3 separate regions of the Homo sapiens genome follow, and regions 2 and 3 are each linked to region 1. The links come from fine-mapping of genetic effects on gene expression. A gene starts in region 1. Each other region holds a variant in brackets. All regions are shown on one strand. Distances are from middle to middle. Region 1 holds the start of IFITM2 (interferon induced transmembrane protein 2). Region 2 has its middle 19 kb from the start of B4GALNT4. Region 3 has its middle 15 kb from the start of B4GALNT4.

Region 1 (2,500 bases):
AGCCCTTAGAGCTCACCCCAGCCAGCAGAAGGAGGAGGACTTAGGGTGTTCGACGTCGAGAAGCACTGTGAGTCGATGGTAGACACAGCCATTGTTAAAGTTAAATCTTAGGAATCTTAGAAATTATCAATAAAATTTATCTTATAGAGCCAAAGTCATCGTTACTCAAACACATCACTCTGCAGTTACACGGCTGCACGCTACCGTCATGTAAACTCTGGAATACTGACGTGGACCTGACCACCCGCTGAGGTGAAAGGCTACAGCAGGGTGAGCAGCTGCCCATCTCTGTAAATTCCACCCTCAGCGATGTCCTCTGCGGAGTCTGGCCTGGTGGGAGAATAAGCCCAGGAAAATGGGCCCATGTAGCACATCAGGAATTAAACAGGGCGCAGGTCGCGGTGCACATAGGCCTGCAGGCCACGTTCCTGCCCCTGTGACCCGCACTGTCCCCTCTGACAAGCTCAAGTGCACAGCATCAGCTCTGTTTGCTGCAATAGCCTCTGCCAAGGAAGGTCCAGGAAGAAGCCCAGAGGCCACACAAGGTGTTTCCACAGGGAGGCTGTAACCTCAGGAGCTGCTCAGAGGCAGCACCGGTTCATGGGAAAAACAGGCGGCAACTACAGGAAGCAGCTGGCACCCGTGTGAGGACCCAGGGAAGAGGCAGAGATGATCAGAACCTGGAAATCTGGAGGGTGCCCCAGGGACCAGCCAGCCAGAGCTCTGGGCAGCGTGGGTGCTGCTGGGCTGTGTGGAGCGGGTCTGGGAGCCGTCACCCAGGTGGGCCTCCAGGGGAAAGGGCCATGGCTTCTAACTCCACCGTCCAGGTCTCTGCTATTGGCATCCCACAGCCCCCTCTTCTGTCAGTGCTCCCAGAGTCCCCTTTCCTGGGCCTGGAGGGCTCCTTTGGGGCAGGCAACATTGGCCGCCAACCCTCTGACCTGCACCAGGAGACACGGGGACCTTTAACCCCCAAACCCGCATGGAGCAGGACTGCAACCCCAGCAAAGGACAAGGGATGTCAGCAGATGAGGCCTGTGACAAGTGAGATGAGGGCTTTTTTTTTTTTTTGAGACGGAGTCTGGCTCTGTTGCCCAGGCTGGAGTGCAGTGGCACAACCTTGGCTCACTGCAAGCTCCGCCTCCCCGGTTCACGCCATTCTCCTACCTCAGCCTCCCAAGTAGCTGGGACTACAGGTGCCCGCCATCACACCCGGCTAATTTTTTTTTGTATATTTAGTAGAGACGGGGTTTCACCGTGTTAGCCAGGATGGTCTCGATCTCCTGACCTCATGATCCTCCCACCTCAGCCTCCCAAAGTGCTGGGATTACAGGCGTGAGCCACGGCGCCCGGCAGAGGTGAGGGCTTTGGGGAAACGGTTGTGGGGCCTGGAGTGTGGAGGCGTCAGCGCAGGCCTGGCAGGAGCCCTGAACCGGGACAGTGAGGTCCTGCAGCTGCTGGCCTGGGGTGTGGAGACTCCCAACACAGGGGAAGTCTCCAGGACCCCACACCACTAACAAGATGAGACTTGTGCTCCTTTGGGCTCTAGAGAGGAAGCCCCTCTTAGCCCTCAGCCCCTCTTTCCTCCCTCTCCTAAAGTAATTTGATCCTCAGGAATTTGTTCTGCCCTTATCTGGCCCTGGCCAGCTCTGCATTTGACAAATGCCAGGAAGAGGAAACTGTTGAGAAAACGGAACTACTGGGGAAAGGGAGGGCTCACTGAGAACCATCCCGGTAACCCGATCACCGCTGGTCACCATGAACCACATTGTGCAAACCTTCTCTCCTGTCAACAGCGGCCAGCCTCCCAACTACGAGATGCTCAAGGAGGAGCAGGAAGTGGCTATGCTGGGGGTGCCCCACAACCCTGCTCCCCCGATGTCCACCGTGATCCACATCCGCAGCGAGACCTCCGTGCCTGACCATGTGGTCTGGTCCCTGTTCAACACCCTCTTCATGAACACCTGCTGCCTGGGCTTCATAGCATTCGCGTACTCCGTGAAGGTGCGTATGGCCCTGGCGGAAATCCAGGGGGTGCCGGTGAGCCTGGGGCTCCACCTGCCCACATGCTGCCTGGGGTGGGGACTTGTGTGTCCCTGTGACTGTGAGTTTGTGTGCACGTCTGTCCTGTGTGTGCCCACGTCAGTGGCTTTGTCTGTGTGATCTGTGTGTGTGTGTGGCTTGGGGAATCTGCCCAGTGCAGGTCTAGGAGGAGGCTCCAGGAGGCTGGCTGGCTGGCTCAGAGTCTGTCCCCGGCTATCCACTAGCCCAGAGCAGTTCTCCCTATAGCCCAGTAAGAAATTACACCTTCACCTTCCAGACTGGCACCCAGGCTCTCCCAGAAAGTGAGAAGGGAACTCACAGGTGACTTCACCCCATGGTGGGGAGAACAGCCTGTGCTGGGGCCAAGGCAGAAGGAGGATGAGCCCCGAGGCTCCTGGAGAGTCTGAGCCGGGTGAGGAAGGGGAGGAGGTGGTCCCTGATCTCAGGGCAGGGAGGA
Region 2 (2,852 bases), 43 kb after region 1:
TTCTAGTCTCATCAGTTGTGTTGTTTGCATTTAGTGAACTTAATATCTGACATGCATTATTTGGACCAAATTTTTAAATTTTTGAAGCTATTTCTATTTTACCAATAATCTTTAAAACTGTCTTTATTTCCCAAAGATTATTTAAGTCACATGAACTAAAAAGCATTGCACTTTTAACTTTTCTGACAAAATTTTTTATTTAAGCTCTTATTATTAAACCAATTAATTAAAGCTCTTTTATATTCCACACACAACATGTACAAAAACACAGACAAACAGAAGTTAAAGACCCATCCCCTAAGCTGGGAATTGAACCCTGAACCCGGGCCGCCATTATGATGGCAGAAACCAAGAGAAAGTACGGCCACGTGGTTACAAGGCCAAGGTCCCAAGGACATGACGGACCAGAGGGAAGCCTCGTCCAGTTTACACACACACACACACACACACACACACAACACACACACCCCCACACACACCACACACACACCACACACACACCACACGCACACACACACCTCACACACACACACCACACATACCACACACACCCCACACACACAACACACACCCCCCACACACACACACCACACACACACCACACACAAACACCACACACACACCACACACACACCATACACACACACCACACACACACCACACGCACACACACACCTCACACACACACACCACACATACCACACACACCCCACACACACAACACACACCCCCCACACAAACACCACACAAACACCACACACACACCATACACACACACCACACACACACACCACATACACACCCACACACACCCCACACACACACACCCACACACACCCACACACACACCACACACACAACACACACCCCCCACACACAAACACCACACACACACCACACACAAACACCACACACACACACCACACACAAACACACACCACATACACACCCACACACACCCCACACACACACACCACACACACACCATACACACACACCACAAACACACACCACATACACACCCACACACACCCCACACACACACACCATACACACACCCACACACACAACACACACACACACACACACACACAGAGACAGAAGTCTGACTGGTGAGCAGTTCTTGCACTTGTGCCAGCATGACAGATTTCTGGGTTTCTTTTCCTGGGGGGCCCTAGTGACCCAACTGTAGCAGGACTAGCTGCAGACAAAACCCCTCAGACACCGAGTTAAAGAAGGGCTTTATTCGGCCGGGAGCTTTGGCAAGAGTCAAATCTTCAACAGCCGAGCTCCCCGAGTGAGCAATTCCTGTCCCTCTTCAGGGCTCACAACTCTAAGAGGGTCCACGTGAGAGGGTCGTGATCGATTGAGCAAGCAGGGGGTATGTGACTGGGGGCTGCATGCACCGGTAATCAGAACAGGACGGGACGGGGTTTTCACAGTGCTTTTCTATACAATGTCTGGAATCTATAGGTAATATAACCGATTAGATCAGCCAGCGGT[C/T]GATCTTTAACTACCAGGCCCAGGGTGTGGCGTTGGGCTGTCTGCTTGTGGATTTCATTTCTGCCTTTTAACTTCTTTCTCTGGAGGCAGAAATTGGGCATAAGACAATGTGAGGGGTGGTCTCCTCCCTTACGACTGGCTGTACCACAGCCCTGGGGGCCAAGCTGCAGCACAAAGGAAGTTACCTCTTTCCGTTCTGGCCAGGGCAAAATACGTGTGAGAAAACAGAGACATCAGCCACTCTGCTTAGCACCTAACATCACACTGGCAAGGCTCAAACTTGCTCCGGTCATCGTTAATCCAACCTCCAACCACAAGTTTCAACACGTGTTCTCTGGGCAAGTCGGTTGCCCCAAGTGATAGAAAAGATAAAAAAGAGAAAGGAGAGAGAGAAAAGCATCGCCTGAGGCAGGGTGGGGAAGGCAAAATGCTCAGGGAGGCCAGAGAAAGACCCGCCCATTGCAGGAACCCTGAGGACTTCAGGCGGCTGCTGTTGGGAAGGGACTTTTTCCGGCAGTCCCATCAGCTCTCAGGTTCCCCTTTTGCGAGAGGAGAAAGCTCCCCATGTTCCACGATCCTGTACGTGCCTAATCCTGTCACCCACAGCCGTCAGCAGAGAGTGCAAGGCAGATTAACCCAAAGAGAATAGCCGTTAACGTCCCCTCGTGCCGAACCCGTTCTCAGCCGAGAGGGACTTTTCTGAGAGGGACTTTACTGAGGGGGCTCTCTAAGCCCCTAAATCTTAAAAGGGACCCTAACCAACCCTCCTAAGGTGGGTCTCTAACCCAAGGTGGGTCAAGCATCCTTGCCTTGTATTAAGAGTGGGCTTTCACCCTCTCTGTCTTAGGACAGACCCTAACTCCCCTAAGTGGGCCTCTCACCCAATCCCATCCTTCGCCGGCTACCCCACCACTTACCCAGCGTCGTCCAGTCAGGGCCGAGTCTATTTCCTTTGGGTCGGGGGCTCCTCCTCAGTATTGTCCCTTCAGGGTTTGCCAGAAAGATGTTACCGGACCCCACTACTTACCCAAAGTTAGCCTTTAGGTCGGGGGTTTCCGCACTGGAGCCCCTCCTGAGGTCACCAGAGATATGTCACCTACCCAACGCTAGGTTTTGAGTCTGCAGTTTTTCTTCTGTGGTCGCCAGAAAGATGTTACCGGAAAGGGGTCCCGATCCAGACCCCGAGAGAGGGTTCCTGGATCTCATGCAAGAAAGAAATCAGGGGGAGTCCATAAAGTGAAAGCAAGTTGGCCGGGCGCAGTGGCTCACGCCTGTAATCCCACCACTTTGGGAGGCCAAGGCGGGCGGATCACGAGGTCAGGAGATCGAGACCATCCTGGCTAACACGG
Region 3 (2,852 bases), 47 kb after region 1:
ACTCTGTGGACTGAGCCAGTGAATCGGCCTCAGGCCAGGCACAGAGCCGGCCCCAGAGGCTGGGGTGAAACACGAGCTGTGAGCTGCAAATCAGAAACAGAGCGACAGGACACTATTTTCATGACGAGGTTCTGGGTTTTTCCCTGATGTTTGTTTCCTCGGTTTTTTTGTTTGTTTTTCCCTTCCCAGTATTTTTGGACTTGAACTTTAGAACTTCAACTTCTCTGAGGTTTAGCTTGGCGGGAGGAGGGGGATTAATTACCGTACCGTAATTTCTCCTGGGATACTGGATTTGGGAAAGGGTATATATCCTAATTTGCCATTCTGAATTGGTTGCATTTGATTAAAAGCATGACTTCTATCATGGAGGGTCCAGCCCTACGGGGCTTGGCGGGTGTTCTCCCCGTGTGTGGAGACGAGAGACCGGAAGAAATAAATACACAAGACAAAGAGATAGAGAGAAAACAGCTGTGCCCGGGGAACCACTACCACCAAGATGCGGAGACCGGTAGTGGCCCCGAATGGCTGGGCACGCTGATATTGATTGCATACAAGACAAGGGGGCAGGGTAAGAACGGTGAGTTGTCCAAGTGATTGATAAGGTCAAGCAAGTCATGTGACCATAGGACAGGGGCCCTTCCCTTACAGGTAGCGGGAGCAGAGAGGGAAGGCAGCATACGTCAGCGTTTTCTTCTATGCACTTTTAAGAAAGATCAAAGACGGCCGGGCGCAGTGGCTCACGCCTGTAATCCCAGCACTTTGGGAAGCCGAGGCAGGCAGATCAGTTGAGGTCACGTGGCCAAGACCAGCCTGGCCAACATGGTGAAACCCTGTCTCTACTAAAAATACAAAAAATTAGCCACGCATGGTGGCAGGCGCCTGTAGTCCCAGCTATTTGGGAGGCTGAGGCAGGAGAATGGTGTGAACCCAGGAGGCGGAGCTTGCAGTGAGCCGAGATCGCACCACTGCACTCCAGCCTGGGCGACAGAGCAAGACTCTGTCTCAAAAAAAAAGAAAAAAAAAAAGAAAGAAAGAAAGATCAAAGACTTTATTTCTTCTACCGCTATCTTCTAAGAACTTCAAAGAGGAACCAGGAGTAAGGGAGGAGCATGAAAGTGGACAAGGAGTGTGATCATTCAAGCACCACAGGGAGGGGGTTAGGCCTCCGGATGACTGCGGGCCAGGCCTGGAGAATATCCAGCCTCCCACAAGAAGCTGGTGGAGCAGAGTGTTCCCTGACTCCTCCAAGGAAAGAAGACTC[C/G]CTTTCACGGTCGGCTAAGTAACGGGTGCCTTCCCAGGCACTGGCGTTACCGCTTAACCAAGGAGCCCTCAAGCGGCCCTTATGTTGGTGTGACAGAGGGCTCACCTCTTGCCTTCTAGGTCACTTCTCACAACGTCCCTTCAGCACCTGACCCTATACCCGCCGGTTATTCCTAGGTTATATTAGTAATGCCACAAAGAGAAATATTAAAAGCTAATGACTAATAATGTTTATACTGATTGATAATGTCCACGATAAAAGCTAATGATTAATAATGTTTATACTAATGATTGATATGTCCATGATCATCTCTAATTTGTATTATAACTATTCTTATTCTCTTTATTATACTGAAAGTTTGTGCCTTGTCTTTTTTTTTTTTTTTTTTTTTTTTTTTTTTTTTGAGACAGAGTCTCGCTCTGTCGCCCAGGCTGGAGTGCAGTGGCGCATCCGGGCTCACTGCAAGCTCCGCCTCCCAGGTTCACCCCATTCTCCTGCCTCAGCTTCCCGAGTAGCTGGGACTACAGGCGCCCGCCATGTGCCTTCAGTCTTTTGCCTCCGCACCTGGGTAATCCTCCGCCCACACTATCACATGCCCTGAATAATGGGGTTAAGAACAATTTGGGGTGGAAAACAGGGTAGGAAGGGAACAGATGGCTCAGAACACAGGAAGTTAATTTAACTGCAGTCCAGGGAGGATGGCATTCTGGAAGCCGAGTCGGCCTGAGGTCTAAGGGGCGGAGGGAACTCCAAGCTTGGCCTGGAGCTCAGGGAAGGGAGCTCGCGTGGACTTCAGGAGCCCGGTGGGTGCTTCCTGTGCACAAACGGGCAGGGTCTGAGCTCCCACCGTCTGGAAATGCTGCCCAGTGGATTTCAGCCTCATTTTACCCAGCTCCCAATCAAGATGGAATTGCTCTGGTTCAAACGCCTAGCTTCGCCAGCTAGGGGGTGAACCGGCCACAGATCCCCGGAGGCCAACAGAAGACAGAGCCCCTGGGTCAGAGGCAAGGACGGTTGACTTCTCAGGCAGGGAGGTGGCCAAGGGAACCGCTTCTGCGGCGGCTTCCCAAGCCCCAGCTCCCGCAGAAGGCCTGGAGGGGCCCGGGGACCCGTGCCACGCAGTGAGTGGCGGCAGGACACGAGCCCGGGGGCGCAGCTTCCTGGACACTCTGCCCCCAGACACTGGCTGCCACGCGGGACGGTGACCAGCGCTGCCCTCGGCGCCCGGGAGGCCTCCCAGGGCTGTGCGCCAGGAAAACATTCCCGAACCGACGGCCGGGAATGGAACGGGGCGGGGCGTTTCCCAGCCCGAGGAAAACAGCCCTGAAAGCGCGGCCAGGAATGGATGGGGGTGGGGCGTTTCCCAGCTGCTCTCCAGGGAGCCGCCTGGAGCGGGGGAAGGGGGGGGCGGCGCGTTCCAACGGTGGGGGGGCTCGTTCCAACGGTGGGGGGGCGGGTCTGCGTTTCGGGCCCCCAGACACGCAGCACGCGGAGGAGCGCCCCGCCCCGTCTAGAGCCCCTTCCTCCACAGCAGGGCCGGGGCGCAGGGGGTCTCCCCGCACCCAGCGCGTCCCGCCCCGTCCCGAACACA

The links. PIP is the estimated chance that this variant, and not a neighbour inherited with it, causes the effect.
Region 2: its variant is the best candidate, but not a certain one, in a credible set for the expression of IFITM2 in blood mononuclear cells (TOPMed, PIP 0.70).
Region 3: its variant is the best candidate, but not a certain one, in a credible set for the expression of IFITM2 in fibroblasts (GTEx, PIP 0.62).

Annotation. Positions count from the first base shown.
Region 1 is chr11:306,435-308,934 of GRCh38, forward strand. It overlaps IFITM2 (interferon induced transmembrane protein 2), which reads left to right and starts at 1,382. Exons shown (of 2, transcript NM_006435.3): 1 at 1,382-2,004. The coding sequence starts at 1,759. RefSeq lists enhancers at 1,623-2,042, 2,423-2,500.
Region 2 is chr11:349,077-351,928 of GRCh38, forward strand. No RefSeq gene overlaps it. Among named protein-coding and RNA genes, the nearest start is that of B4GALNT4, 19 kb to the right of the region's middle. RefSeq lists a cis regulatory region at 1,739-2,215. The variant C/T (reference allele first, on the strand shown) is at 1,504.
Region 3 is chr11:353,495-356,346 of GRCh38, forward strand. No RefSeq gene overlaps it. Among named protein-coding and RNA genes, the nearest start is that of B4GALNT4, 15 kb to the right of the region's middle. RefSeq lists silencers at 1-162, 2,631-2,852 and enhancers at 825-1,401, 907-1,196, 2,383-2,852. The variant C/G (reference allele first, on the strand shown) is at 1,262.